Homo sapiens: one gene and its partner. The protein of the gene in region 2 purifies or fractionates together with the protein of the main gene of each other region. This does not show direct contact. Each region holds a gene or a part of one and is shown on either strand. Other genes may lie near its edges.

Evidence for each region. Proteins that work in one complex are often made in the same cells at the same time.
Region 1: the proteins of SV2A (region 2) and FAM91A1 purify together in Homo sapiens (affinity purification with mass spectrometry; 2 studies listed by BioGRID and IntAct, with this or other methods). This does not show direct contact.

The regions. Positions count from the first base shown.
Region 1 is NC_000008.11:123,764,486-123,771,676, forward strand, and holds the start of FAM91A1 (protein FAM91A1), read left to right. Parts: upstream 1-3,953; 5' UTR 3,954-4,217; coding exon 4,218-4,289; intron 4,290-7,191. UniProt on the Homo sapiens protein: As component of the WDR11 complex acts together with TBC1D23 to facilitate the golgin-mediated capture of vesicles generated using AP-1.
Region 2 is NC_000001.11:149,907,815-149,915,052, reverse strand, and holds part of SV2A (synaptic vesicle glycoprotein 2A), read left to right. Parts: intron 1-865; 5' UTR 866-1,212; coding exon 1,213-1,834; intron 1,835-3,072; coding exon 3,073-3,253; intron 3,254-4,075; coding exon 4,076-4,227; intron 4,228-4,349; coding exon 4,350-4,483; intron 4,484-5,162; coding exon 5,163-5,252; intron 5,253-5,481; coding exon 5,482-5,592; intron 5,593-5,772; coding exon 5,773-5,861; intron 5,862-6,846; coding exon 6,847-7,011; intron 7,012-7,219; coding exon 7,220-7,238. UniProt on the Homo sapiens protein: Plays a role in the control of regulated secretion in neural and endocrine cells, enhancing selectively low-frequency neurotransmission.

The sequences.
Region 1 (7,191 bases), on a different chromosome or scaffold from region 2:
AAAAGCCCCTATCATTTGGGAGCTTCCTGTCTGATGGGAGAGACAATTTTAAAGATTAAGTCATTTACTGACTATATTAGATGGTAATAAGTGCCATCTCCACTTTATGGAGAAAAATAATGCAGGGGAGGAGGATGCAGAGGGTTGGAGATATGTTACGATTTTGAATAAGGTGGTCAGGGAAGGCTTAACTGAGAAGTAGCACTTGAGAGCTCAGGTATCACATAACTAGTTCATGCATTCAATACAATCAATGGTATTTATTGAGCACTTATTATATATGATGCATGATTCTAGGTCCTAGAGATAAACTGATGAACAAGAAAGCAAAGTCCTTCCTTCCATGCAGAGACAGACAACAAGCAAGGAGCCAAACAGGATAATGTTGGACAGTAATTCCTTACAATGAAGGACATGAACAAGGTAATGAGAGAGGTAATGAGGTTAGAGGGAGGTTGAGGGGAGAAGTGGCTAGGTTGGACAAGGTAGTTGGAGAAGGCCACTCTAAGTGACAGCAGGTGGACTCAAAGGAACCTGCTGTGCAAAGGTCTGGGGAAAGGCATTCAAGGTGGAGGGGATTAGAAGGGTAAAAACTGGGAGGTGGGAACAAGCAAGGCTAAGGTGTCTGGCATGGAGATAAAATGGTTCATGGAACAGAGCAAATCATATACGGTATGGAAACCCACGACTAAGGTCGGACTCAGGCAAAATTGTGAAACAGAAAAATGTTACAGTGACTCCCTTTCCTCTCTTTTTTCTGGACACCATTTCCTCCCCTACAGGTGCTTCTCTAGCCTCATTTCATCCCTAAGCTCTATCTCTTTCAAACTTGCTCTCAGAAAAGGATGTGACAGCTCATGTATACTTAAAAAATAATAAGGCTTAAAGGGAATTATTCCTCCTAAGGGCATTTAATCACAATGACTTTAATTATAACATTTGATGCATCAGCTATTTGGGTGTTGGAATATTTTATTGTTGGGGAGTATATTAATTTCCTATTGCTGATGTAACAAATTACTATAAATTTGGTGCCTTGAAATCACACACATTTATTATCTTACATTTCAGGAGATCAGAAGCTCAAAATGGCTCAGCAGGGCTGTGCTCCTTTTGGAGAATCCATTTCTTCCAGTTCCTAGAAGCTGTTCACATTCCTTGGCCTGTGGCCCTGTATCACTCTGATCTCTGCTTCTGTTGTCACATCACCTTCTCTAACTCTGACCCCCTGCCTCCCTCTAATAAGGACCTCGTGATTATCTTGAACCCACTTGGATAATTCAAGATTATCTCCTCATGTCACGATGCTTAACTGCATCTGCAAAGTCCCTTTTACCATATAAGGGGCAAATTCACAAGTTCTAGGCATTAGGATGTGAACATCTTTGGGGACTATTATTATTCCTACCACAGGGCATGACATTCTGGAGTCTATGAGTGGGGTCATTAGATGGCTCCCTATTTTCAGGTAGTTTCTGCTCATTATTTCTGTTGGAATTTTGGGAATGAAATAGTTCTGTAGTCTTTCTAAAGGGCCAATTGCCTAAGCTAGTTGGGCAGTTTTCCTCAATCTGATCTTGTAAAGCCAGATAAGACTGAATTTCATTGCACTTGTTTGTGCTTTTGAACACTTTTTTTTTTTTTTTTTTTAACCCACAGTGTTAATTCGAATGGCAGCTTCTGGGATGGGACTTAAACACTCTGCAGTTTCTGACCTCTGTGGAATTTGAAAAGCCAAAGGTCTAGTAAAGTAAAAATTAGCAGGAGCCTCAGTCAGGGACGTAAAGGAAGGACATTATTGCTAAACGAAAAGGTGAGGTGCTGTAATGAGTGTCACATGTGGAGTCAGTCTAGTGAGCGACTGTTTCCAGCTTTCTGATGCTTGGGGAAGCAGTACTGTTCCTGAACTTCCCAGCAGAGGGGGTCATAGAGCCCTGTGGGTTAATTTACCGTCTTTGAACTCCTATCCTCTCAAAGACTGGTCCTTGGTGGGAAATGAGGCAGATCAGTACTTTAATAAGATTGTGTATTAAGCCAGAGTCCATCACTGGTTCCTGCTCGTAAGGGCTTGTTATTTGAATTCTTCCCATCCACATAGCTCTATCTCATTCCCATTTCCTCCTTCATGTGTCTGCTTTTCTCAGCTACTTGCCGAGTGAGAATCTTTTCTAGTCACAGGGTCGCATTTTCAAAGGTCTGTTTGCCTTATTAATTTAATGGGTGTAGGTTCACCTCTACTTATCCCACGTTCACTTTTATAGTTTTTGATGTGTCCACTAAACTCAATATAGTGAGTTTATCAGGCATTCACCTGCTGAACTGCTATCATTAGCTAAAATAATAGTTTACAGGGATTTTTTTAAGCTAAATTGACTTTAATTTTCATTGTTACTTATATTGCATTAGATCTAAGTTAGACTTTGGAAGAATATGGGTTCTTCCACACTTAGAACTGTAAAGCATTATTTTAGAGGATGTTTATGTCGTTGACTTTGAATGAACATTGTCTAAATTGGAACAGGAGGTAGAAGAGTTCAGTGAGTGAGAGCCTGAGTTGGGGAACTGAAAGGATGGCTCTGGAGTGAGGATAGCCTTCGGCTCCAGTTTGGCTCTGTCAGTGCTACCTGTGTGATCTTGCGAGCAAGTCATGAAGCCCTGCCAAGCCTCAGTCTCCTCCTCTATCAAACTGGGATAGTAAGTGGTTACTGTTGTAGGAATATCAGGGTTGTGAGGAATAATCTATTGTCAAGTCAAGGCCTTAATACATGGCGGGCAGGTAATCAATATTTGTTGAATAAATGTCTCACGGTTAGAGTTCAGTTAACCTTAGCTATGCTGATGAGGATCTGTAAACATAAGGTTCAAAGCACTTATCTTTGGGTTATTATAGTTGGATAATAGGAGACCAAAACATCTAAGCAAGGGCAGTGTGTACTTGTCACCTTTATTTCATCAGACATAATGGGGTTTCTGCTAAGCATCAGACTTGCCAGCTGTTGAGGTGTGAGCTAGGTATCTTATAAAAAGTTCTAAGTATACATCTCCCAGTATATAATAAAACATTATTTAAAACCATTGTTAAAAACTGAAAAACAGTTGCAATAACACTGAACTTGTCTCTGGTTGCTGCCAGGAATAATGGTCACGGGTTTGCTAAGGCAGCGTAACAACTTCTGAAAGAAATTATTCCCAAAGACCTTATCACTCAATCTGAAATTAAGACATGCTGGATTTTTGCTTTTAAGTGACTCTGGAGGCATTTGTGTGGAGCAGAATAAAGCAGAAACCGACAGGCTGCATGACAAAGTTGGCAAGGGTATCTCTCTGTCAGCCCTGTAGGCTGCCTCGACCTGTCAGCACCACTGTTTAAAATTTCAGCTCCCTGAATCCCTGCATTGTAAGAATTTGGATCTTCTTGGGAAGTGGAGCCCAATGACGTGCAGCACACCGCGGAAGGGAAGAGGGCTTACCAGACCTTTGCTCTCCCACTGCCCATGCTTCTCGCTCAACCCGGTGCGAGACCTGACTTAGAGATTATTTCTTTCTCCAGGGCCCTGGACCCGTCCCCGCAACCCCCCGCCCCGTCTCACTGGCCCGGGTTCCGGGCTGGCCTGTGGAGAACCCCCGCGAGCGCACCGCACTCCAATGTAAAGCCAGCCACTGCCGGCCCGCTTCCCAGGTCGCTTTTCTCTGAAAACCGACCCCAGTGCCTCCGGCTTTACAATTTGAGTAAACTGGGTCATCAGCAACGGCAACGCAGACCCAAGCGACTATCGCCGTTCATTCAGAGACTGAAACGGGGAGACGAAGCGCGCGGGCGGGGAACGCTCACCCGGGCACCTCCCGGTACCTCGTCGTCGCCCCGCCCCGCAGCCTGTAGAGGGCGTGGCTAGAGGCCAGTCCGTGCCCCGCCCCTCCGGCCGCGCGCCAGCGGGCGGAAGTGACGTGTGCCCAGAGCCATTTCCGGCGGCCCGAAACTAGGAAGAAACTTGGAGCTGTTCAGGCGATCCAGCCTCCAATCGCTGCTGCTCTTGTACTCGGTTGGCCCGGGCGGCGCTGAACTGTCGGGAGCCTAGGCCATGGGGCAGCCTGGGCCTTCTGCAGTGTGAGGCGCGGGGCCTCCCGCGTCGCTCCGCTGACAGGCTGCGGGCGGGCAGGCGGGAGGCGTAGTGTGGGTCGCGGTGGCGGCCCCGGCCGCCGGCCCTGGCCGCGGCATCATGAACATAGACGTGGAGTTCCACATCCGGCACAACTACCCCTGGAACAAGTTGCCGGCCAACGTGAGACAGGTACGGCCGGAACCTGGGACCGGGCCCCTGACGGATTCGGCCCGCCCAGCGGTCACCTGCTTGCCTCGCTCGCGGGGCCCGAGCGGGCTGCTGCCGGCTGACTCCCTTCCTTTACTCCTCCGTGGTCTTGGGGAGACGGACCTTCAGCCCAGGGCGAGGAGGGGACGGCTGTGGGGCCACAGGGCCAGGACGGGGCGATCGCTAAATGGGATGGCATGGTGTCCACAGGACTCGACTGGCGCCTTTGCCCGCAGGATACATTCAGCCAGGCACCTGCGATAGAGATTTTAAACACGGTCCTTGACCTCCGGAATTTCAGGATGGTGGGAAAGGGATGGGAAACAAATGAATACGATACAGGATGATAGCAGCTCATACACACCTGCATTGTAGTATATGTGAGAGCAGAGGGAGGGAGAAATTATCCTGGGAGAGTTGGAAGGATTTTTAAGGCAGGCACTTAAATTGGGCCTTGGAGGACGAATAAGAGTTAAATAAGAGGGAATAAAGATTTTTCCAGGGGGAGGGAAAGTCATTTTACAAAGCTTGGATGAGTGAAAGAACATGTCTCATGAGTAGCAAGTGACTGTATCACCAGAGTTTGGACTGACATGTTTGGAGTTGAAGTTTTTTGAGTGCGCGGGGCTGGTAGCAGATGAGCCTGGAAAAGTGGTCAGGGCCAGATTTTGAAGGTGCTTGTGTGCTTTGTTTTGTTGGACTTTATCCTCCAGACAAGATGGGTTTATCAGAGATGTTTCAACAAGAGTGACATGAGGTTTTTGAAAGTTAATTCTCGATTTTTTTAGTCTGTTTTACTCAATTGTTTAATAGATATTTATTGACCACCTACTAGGTGCTGTGCGTTGCTCTAGGTGCAGGTAATTTGCAACAGTCAACAAGACAAAGACTGCCTTCATGGAGCTTACATTTTACTAAAGAAAGACGTAAACAAATAAATGAATAAATACGTAACATAGCAGATGGTTTTAAGTCTTACGAAAGTAGTGATATGGGCTACAGATAACGCACTGCTGCTCTGGTCATAGATTGACCTTCGCTTCCTCCCATTATACTTGGTCGAGAGTGAAATTCAGTTTTCTGTTGGCACTCGGCAGTGGCATTTTTGGGAAGTTTGGAATGGTGGCGGTGATGGTATATAAGGATTATTTATTTATTTTTATTTTTATTTTCATTTCTTTGAGACAGAGTCTCCTGTTGCCCAGGCTGGAGTGCAGTGGTGTGATCTCCGCTCACTGCAAACTCTGCTTCTTGGGTTCAAGCGATTCTCCTGCCTCAGCCTCCCGAGTAGCTGGTACTACAGGTGCGCGCCACCACGCCCAGCTAATTTTTGTATTTTTAGTAGAGACGGGGTTTCATCATGTTGGCCAGGCTGGTCTCGATATCTTGACCTCATGATCCGCCCGTCTCGGCCTTCCAAAGTGCTGGGATTACAGGCGTGAGCCACAGTGCCCAGCCAGTATGAGGATTGTTATAGTTTAGTTTACTTTGCTCCCTTCCTCCCTTGGGGATTTAGTGCCAGGAAGTGAATATTAAGGTTCTGGTCATGCATCATGTGGCCAAGAAAATGCTTTCACTTTAATATAGCAAAAACCGAGAAAGATAAATTTAAAGAACTTGAATTCTTGGGTGTCAGTGGCTGCCCGTGTGGCATTTATCTTAAACTGGGAGAACAAAGCTCTAAACCTGAAGGAATAAATTTCTTTTGTTAATCTTGAATAAAGGCTTTAAAGGACACTTTTGTACTTTAGGGTTTTGTGGCAAATCCAAAGACACAAGAAGAACAAACAGTTCTTCTTTTCTTTGTTTCCATTTTTTCTCTACTCTTTTCATCAGAATAAATGTAGCATACTGGAAGAAAGATGAGTGATGAGATTATATCCAACATGAATATTTGACTTTAATTAGTATTGGCAAAAGAGTTTCTAAAACGTAGTCATGACTATTTAAAAATAATCATGGGACAGTTAAAATTAGGTCTAAATGTGAAATTAAGTATGTTTTTGTTTTTAAAATCACTTGAAAAACAGTGGCTATTTTAGCTTAGGATAAGGTTGGCCATTTGTAGATGTTGCAAAACATCTGTACAAGTTTACTTCCAAGGACCTTCTCTAGCCTAATCACTGCTTCCCTAGGCCGAGCTCCATCTGAGATTACTACATCAGCCTTCTCTCTGGTCTCTTGCTCTTAGAATAGGACTTTCTCTGCATTCTTCATGCTACTCTGGGGGTGAGGCTTCTGAAATGCAAACCCAACCTTATTACTGCTGGTCTCCTTTATATTGCTTGTATTAATAGCATATTTTGATTCTCACTCTGATACTGCTCCTGGGAGGTTTCCCTGACCACCTAAATCTGTGGTGGTTGCCCCTAGGCTATCTTACCATTGCATTGTATTCCTCACCTGTCATAGAGCTTACCCCGCTATGGTGCATTTTGTGGTTACAATACTGGCTTTGCTTTTGTCCCATGAGCACCTCTCACATACTTGGCTTTTAGTATTTGTGGCTGAGCACCTAAAGCTCAGTCAGTTTAAACTTGGGGAATATTCCTTCTATGGAAAGAATTTGTCTTTTGGCATTATAGATTTTTAGACACTTCGATGTCGTTTCCAGTAAGTTTTGATGGGTTTACCTTGAAAATGACTCATTTTCCAGTTCTGTAAGCTAGGGGCAGGTGATTTAGATTTTTAAAAAATGTATTTTAAGCTAATTCATTTTTATGTGGATGAGAGGACATTTAAAAAAATGTGGTATGGGTCATGATAGACTTTTAAAAAATATATAAAAAATTGTGGATGGGGCCATTATTTCAGGATTTTTCTGTAGTTTACCACTATCTTGTATTCTTTATCCAAAATAATTAATAGCCCTTTTATTTTGAGG
Region 2 (7,238 bases):
CCCTAACAGTCATGTGCTTTGCCCTGAACCAGGATTCTCCTTGCCAGTGTCCCTTCCTGCTGCTCACCCTAAAGAGCATCCAAGATAGCTTTCATCTGGGGACCTTATGAGGTAGTATAGGGCATTTCACTATATTACTGTCACCACAAAATTAATAATTAATATTTATTCATCATTTTTATGTGCCAGGTGACTTATGGTAAGGAGCATAGATACATTATATCATTCGACCCTTACTTTCCCCTTTTTAAACAAGAAGAAACTGAGGCTTGGTCCCTTAGCTAGTATTTGCCAAAACAGGAAGTCAACCCCATGTCTTTGTGACTCTGGAAGCTGAGCATTTACCCATTAGACTATGTTGAGAGAAAATCCCTCCTTGTTGAAGCCTGTAAACATGGGACCTGAGGGAAGGACAGTGGAAGCCCCTGCCTTCAGATGCCATCAGAGGAGGGAAGGCCACAGGTTGGAGGGCTTGTCCTCTTACACATCCTCCTCAACTCCACCCCTAGTAAGAAACCCAGGCAAGACTAAAGAAGGGAATTCTGGTTTCTCATATTTCCTGTTTAGTTCTTTGCAGATTGGTGATAAAGCAAGGGCTGGGGTGGGTTTGGGGGTAGGTGACTGCGACTTTGGAGCAAATTCCACAGGCCAGGCCTCCAAGGTCAAAGTAAGGGGACTTCTATGTGAGTGACCCGGTTAGCCCAGATAGCCATCCCTTTTTAGTGTGTGGATGGGAGCCTAAAGCGAGAAGACCATCTCTGCACCACATGGTCCAGATGGGGCTCTGGGTTGAGAGGCTTTATACTGGCCTTCTTCACCACCTTAGGACTCACAACTTCCTTTTGCTGTCTGTTATTTTTTCTAGGTCTCCAGAGGCTTGTGGAAGAGAAGCAGGCGACCCTTCCTGAGTTATCCTGGCTTAGCCTCCCAATCTGGCTCCCCTTCCCCTTCCCATTCCCCTGCTCCCCCTGTCCCTTCCCCATCCACCCAACTGAACTGGGTATAGGTCAAAGCTCCTCTCCTTCCTTTTCCTTCCTAGGCACTCATTGGCTAGGACCTGTTTGCTCTTTTTTTTGTGCCCAGAGATACTGGAACACGCTTCATCTAAGTAACTGTGGGGAGGGGTCTTTTTGACTCTACAAGTCCTTGAGCAAAAAGCTGAAAAAGAAGCAGGAGGTGGAGAAGACCCAGTGAAGTGCCCCAAGCCCCATCATGGAAGAGGGCTTCCGAGACCGGGCAGCTTTCATCCGTGGGGCCAAAGACATTGCTAAGGAAGTCAAAAAGCATGCGGCCAAGAAGGTGGTGAAGGGCCTGGACAGAGTCCAGGACGAATATTCCCGAAGATCGTACTCCCGCTTTGAGGAGGAGGATGATGATGATGACTTCCCTGCTCCCAGTGATGGTTATTACCGAGGAGAAGGGACCCAGGATGAGGAGGAAGGTGGTGCATCCAGTGATGCTACTGAGGGCCATGACGAGGATGATGAGATCTATGAAGGGGAATATCAGGGCATTCCCCGGGCAGAGTCTGGGGGCAAAGGCGAGCGGATGGCAGATGGGGCGCCCCTGGCTGGAGTAAGGGGGGGCTTGAGTGATGGGGAGGGTCCCCCTGGGGGCCGGGGGGAGGCACAACGACGGAAAGAACGAGAAGAACTGGCCCAACAGTATGAAGCCATCCTACGGGAGTGTGGCCACGGCCGCTTCCAGTGGACACTGTATTTTGTGCTTGGTCTGGCGCTGATGGCTGACGGTGTGGAGGTCTTTGTGGTGGGCTTCGTGCTGCCCAGCGCTGAGAAAGACATGTGCCTGTCCGACTCCAACAAAGGCATGCTAGGTAAGACATGGGGGGCTCCAGCCTTATCCCCTCAAACTCTGGAAACCTCCTTGCTCCTGGAAATTGCTCTTGTCCTTACCACTGGGTTCCCTAGGACCCTGCACCCAAGATGTTCCCAGAGGGCTCAGGGTTCCTCTGCACACTCTTCCCTCACACACTCCCTCTTCTTGGCCTTGGGTCAGGGTGAAGTTGAATGTGACAGAGGGGCTTGCGGGAGGGCAGCTGGACTGGGGCTTGGGCCAGTGGTTGGGTGGTGGTCTGCTTCATTCTGCAGGAGGTGGCTGTGGTAGGATGGTCCCTACCATTTAATGTTTCTTCATAGCTTTCCCTCTGGTTATCCTGTTCCCTTTCACTGATTGGGGAACAAGAAGCCAGTATCCAAACTCCTTGGTATAAATGGGGAGAGTCAGTTTGGGGTGGTTGGGGGAGGGGGGGAGGGTCCTGGATCTTCTGCCAGAGAAGCTGGTTAGACTTTCTCTCACTCAGATGGGAGTTTCCAGGGGACAGGATGTAGTCTTTGATGGCCTTTCCTGACAGGGACTCTGAGGAGGAACCCCGTAGACTCACAGAGAAAGAATCGAGGCCTTACTCTGCCACCAAATTGCCATGGGGTCTTGGACAGGTCTCTTCTTCCTGGGGCTTGGTTTGGGCATGGGAAAATGCAAAGTTTGGAGTAGATGATTTTAAAGATTAATTCCAGCTTTGGTTTTATGAAGGCAGTGAAAAACAGGAGAGTTTTTGGACCAGAAATATTGAGACTGGAAGGAGTAAAGGATGGATTTTGTGTGGGAGATTTCCTGGGAAGATGAAATGAATTGGAGCCCCTTTCCCCAGGAACAAATGAGAGCTCTCCTGCTGCTTTGAGGGATCAAAGCAGGGAGAATAGAGAGGACCCTGGGGTGGTCTGTGATCCTAGGCACACCCATTCCTCCTTCAAAGTGAGCCAGGGGTAAAGGTGTCACTGTGTGTGTGTCAGAGTGAGAAATGAGACAGACCGAAGAGAGTGGAGAGTTTGCAGGTTCTCCCATATCTTCATTCCTGCCTTTGAACCCCTGGCCTGCAGAGATGATCTTCTATCTTTGCTTACACCATTCATTTTCTCTCACTTGCTCTAATCTCTGGGTAGACTTACCTTCTAGAAGTTTTTCAGATCCTTCAGCTCCCTCAGTGCTCATCTCCTGGGAGAATTAAGGTGTGTCTGCTCACACCCCCTCTGCCTGTTTTCCTCCTCCTTCCAGGCCTCATCGTCTACCTGGGCATGATGGTGGGAGCCTTCCTCTGGGGAGGTCTGGCTGACCGGCTGGGTCGGAGGCAGTGTCTGCTCATCTCGCTCTCAGTCAACAGCGTCTTCGCCTTCTTCTCATCTTTTGTCCAGGGTTACGGCACTTTCCTCTTCTGCCGCCTACTTTCTGGGGTTGGGTGAGTGTACACTTCCTAAGTCCCTTGAGGGCAGGACTGTGCCTTGGTCACTGTTGTATCTTTAGGGCCCAGCACAGTGCCAGGCACACCAAATGCACCTTAAATCTGTGTGAGTTGAACGGATGAATGAGTTCCTTTCTCCCCCAGCCATCTTCAGGCCAGCTCCTCCCTGCCCAGGACCTGTCTGCTGCTGTCCAGAATGCTGTTCCTTGGCCCACTCCTGAGTCCTCCACCCCACCTCTAGTTCCATTTTTGAGCCTGCCTCCACAAAGAGGCCTAGTGGGCCTCAGCCCCACCCCTGGGCTCCTGTGGACCCAGAGTTACCCCCTACCAGAGTCTACACATTTCCTGCATTACACAACAAACCTTGCTAACACCCACACCTGCCAGAACCCTGACGCCTTGTCCGCACTGCCCCTTCACTTTTGCAAGCATGGCAGGCCCGCTTACTCTGCTTCAACTCCAAGCTCCTTTCTGGCCATTCCCACAACATCTGCCCTTGGAGGCTTTTGGCTTGTCTTTTTTCTCTGGAGATTTATTCTCTTTTCTGCAATTACTTTCCCGCCCTTCCAACTCTGTAATTCATTTTCAAGATTTAAGATTTGCTCTTTCCCTTTCCCTGAGACTCGCTTGCCTGTTTCCCATGGTCCCAAGGATGGGTGCTTGATGGCTGGCCCACATGGGAGCTTGTAAGGCTTTATGTGTGAGATGGAGTCTCTTCAAAAGCCTGGAAGACAAAAGGGGCTCGGGGTCCAGAGCAGTGGGGCAGGGGATCAGGACTATGGCCATTTGCTAATGCTGAATTCTTGAAATGCACTTCAGGATTGGAGGGTCCATCCCCATTGTCTTCTCCTATTTCTCCGAGTTTCTGGCCCAGGAGAAACGAGGGGAGCATTTGAGCTGGCTCTGCATGTTTTGGATGATTGGTGGCGTGTACGCAGCTGCTATGGCCTGGGCCATCATCCCCCACTATGGTGAGCAGCCCCCGGAAATCCACCCCAGGTTATCTCCCTCCTCCCTCTTCTTCTGTGCTCCCTGTGGTGGGTTCCCCCAGCCTCTGGCCTCTCTGCTGATGCTGTCACTTTCTCCCTACCAGGGTGGAGTTTTCAGATGGGTTCTGCCTACCAGTTCCACAGCTGGAGGGTCTTCGTCCTCGTCTGCGCCTTTCCTTCTGTGTTTGCCATTGGGGCTCTGACCACGCAGCCTGAGAGCCCCCGTTTCTTCCTAGAGGTGATGGGGCTGAGCTGCATGGGGTGGGGTGGGGTGCGGGCTGTGGAGTGTGGACGGCAGCAGGGGCTTCTGTGTTCAAACACCAACTGGAGTTTGATTTGATCCTGTTTGACTGCCTGCCTTCCTCACAGAGTCCACTCTCCAGGGGACTTTATCTTGCATTCTTTGCCTTGGAATGTGTCCCTGAGGGGTTCTTGGGTGGAGAAACCAGGGGACCTCTTTACCCATGGATGACTTAAGATTTTGCAGGGAAGGGCCTTGGCCCTGTCCTGCATTTACAGCTCAAGAGACATTCCCACCCCCTATACCTTCCCCTCCTAACCCCAGCAGGATTAGGTCTTTGACTACATGCTTGCCCATCATTTCCCTTACCTTTGGTTTTTACATTCCTCTGTACTATGGAATTCCCAAGACCTGTGCTTGCCTTTTTCCCCTGGACAACACTCCCCACCCCCAACCCGCAGCTCTTGCCCAAGTCTGATTGTCTTGCTATACCTCAGCTTGGGGCTCTTTCAGAGTGGTGAGTGCATGCCCATAGGTCAGGGCTTGGTGGTGGGGTTGAGGGCTGGGAACCATTTAGTGTCCTGTGACTACAGAAGCCAGGTGGGAGGGAGGGGGTCTATAACTCTGGGTCAGGTAGGGGCTGACTTGGATGTGGGGATTGTGTCTTTGGCTCTAGAATGGAAAGCATGATGAGGCCTGGATGGTGCTGAAGCAGGTCCATGATACCAACATGCGAGCCAAAGGACATCCTGAGCGAGTGTTCTCAGTAAGCCACAGCCCTCCCGACTCAGACCTCCACGCCCTGCAGCCCCAGCCCCTACCTGGCCCCTCTCTGAGTACCCCCCACCTCAGACCACACTCTACCGTAAGGAGATTTTCAGGGTATCATATCCACCTCCTGCCTCCCATTTTGCTAATGCAGGGGAAACTGAGGCGCCTGGCCGATGTTGGGAAACACAGAGTGTGTGACTGCCCACCCCTTCTCTTGACCCCAGGTAACCCACATTAAGACGATTCATCAGGAGGATGAATTGATTGAGATCCAGTCGGACACAGGGACCTGGTACCAGCGCTGGGGGGTCCGGGCCTTGAGCCTAGGGGGGCAGGTAATGGTGGACGGGGTGGTAGATAGAAGGGAGTGGGGGAAGTGGAGAAGAAGGCAGGACTGAAGTCTATGTGTGTGGGTGATGGGTGAGCTGAAGGGAGGTGGGAGGGCAGAAAAGTGGGGATCTATGGGTGCTAGAACTTAGTATAGTCAAGGTCTGACTTTGTCTGGTCCCCTGTAGGTTTGGGGGAATTTTCTCTCCTGTTTTGGTCCCGAATATCGGCGCATCACTCTGATGATGATGGGTGTGTGGTTCACCATGTCATTCAGGTGAGGAGATGGGTGGGCTGGGTGATGTGTGGTGGTTGTGGTGGTGTGTGGGCTGGGAGAGAGGTGGGGAGAATGGAGATGCAGGGGACAAGCGATGAGGGAAGGTGCCATGCAGACCCCCTCTGATCCTGCAGCCAGCTCCTCTACTTCGCTAGTTCACTCAACAAACTTGTACTGTAGGCTGACCAGGATTCAGTTTCTATTCTGTGCTGGGATGAAACAGATGTGGTCCAAGGTCCTCCTGGAGTTTATGTTTTGGTTAAGAAGCAGGACGATGAGGCTCGTAATCCCAGCACTTTGGGAGGACGAGGCGGGCGGATCATGAGGTTAGGAGATCGAGACCATCCTGGCTACGGTGAAACCCCGTCTCTACTAACATACAAAAAATTAGCCGGGCATGGTGGTGGGCGCCTGTAGTCCCAGCTACTCTGGAGGCTGAGGCAGGAGAATGGTGTGAATCCGGGAGGCAGAGGTTGCAGTGAGTCGAGATCGCGCCACTGCACTCCAGCCTGGGTGACAGAGCGAGACTCCGTCTCAAAAGAAAAAAAAGAAGTGAGACGAAACTTGCTATGAAGCAGGGTGATGAGAGAAGGGTGGGGGAAGGGCAGTGGGAGCACTTGGGGCTTGGGCTGGGGTGGGGACCTAAGTCCTCAAAGGTGAATGGGAGTCAGACAGGTGGAGTGGGGGTGGCTGGGGTGGAGAAGAGTGTTTTTGGCAGAGGGAAAAGCAAATGCTTGGGAGGTAAGAAAAAGTATAGTGGCTGCTGTGCGAGACCCTGAAGTCCCCCAGGAGCGCAGCAACTGTTGAAGGGAGGAGCAGGGAGAAGCTGGTGAGGCTGGAGAGGAGCAAGGTCCTAACAGAGGTTGACTCCATTTCTCCCTTGTTCTGAGATGATACACATTTCCGTTTTCTCCTCTGCCTGATTCTAATCTCTGAGCCTTGTCTGAAGCCCTGTTGTCTGTTTCCATTGTCCTTGACTCTTCAGCTACTATGGCCTGACCGTCTGGTTTCCTGACATGATCCGCCATCTCCAGGCAGTGGACTACGCATCCCGCACCAAAGTGTTCCCCGGGGAGCGCGTAGAGCATGTAACTTTTAACTTCACGTTGGAGAATCAGATCCACCGAGGCGGGCAGTACTTCAATGACAAGTATGTGGGGACTTTTAAACTTCACTTCTTCCCTGTTCCTTCTACCTCGTCTCTTTTATGAGTCTAGGGGTTCAAGACAAGACATTTGGGGGGCAAACACTTGTGGTTTCTTCTCAATGCCCAGCTTCCCATTACTTCGCTAAAGAGTGAGTCTTGGAGGGGGCATGAGGATGACGGGGGAGTGTCTTTCACCATCCTGGCCTTACAGGTTCATTGGGCTGCGGCTC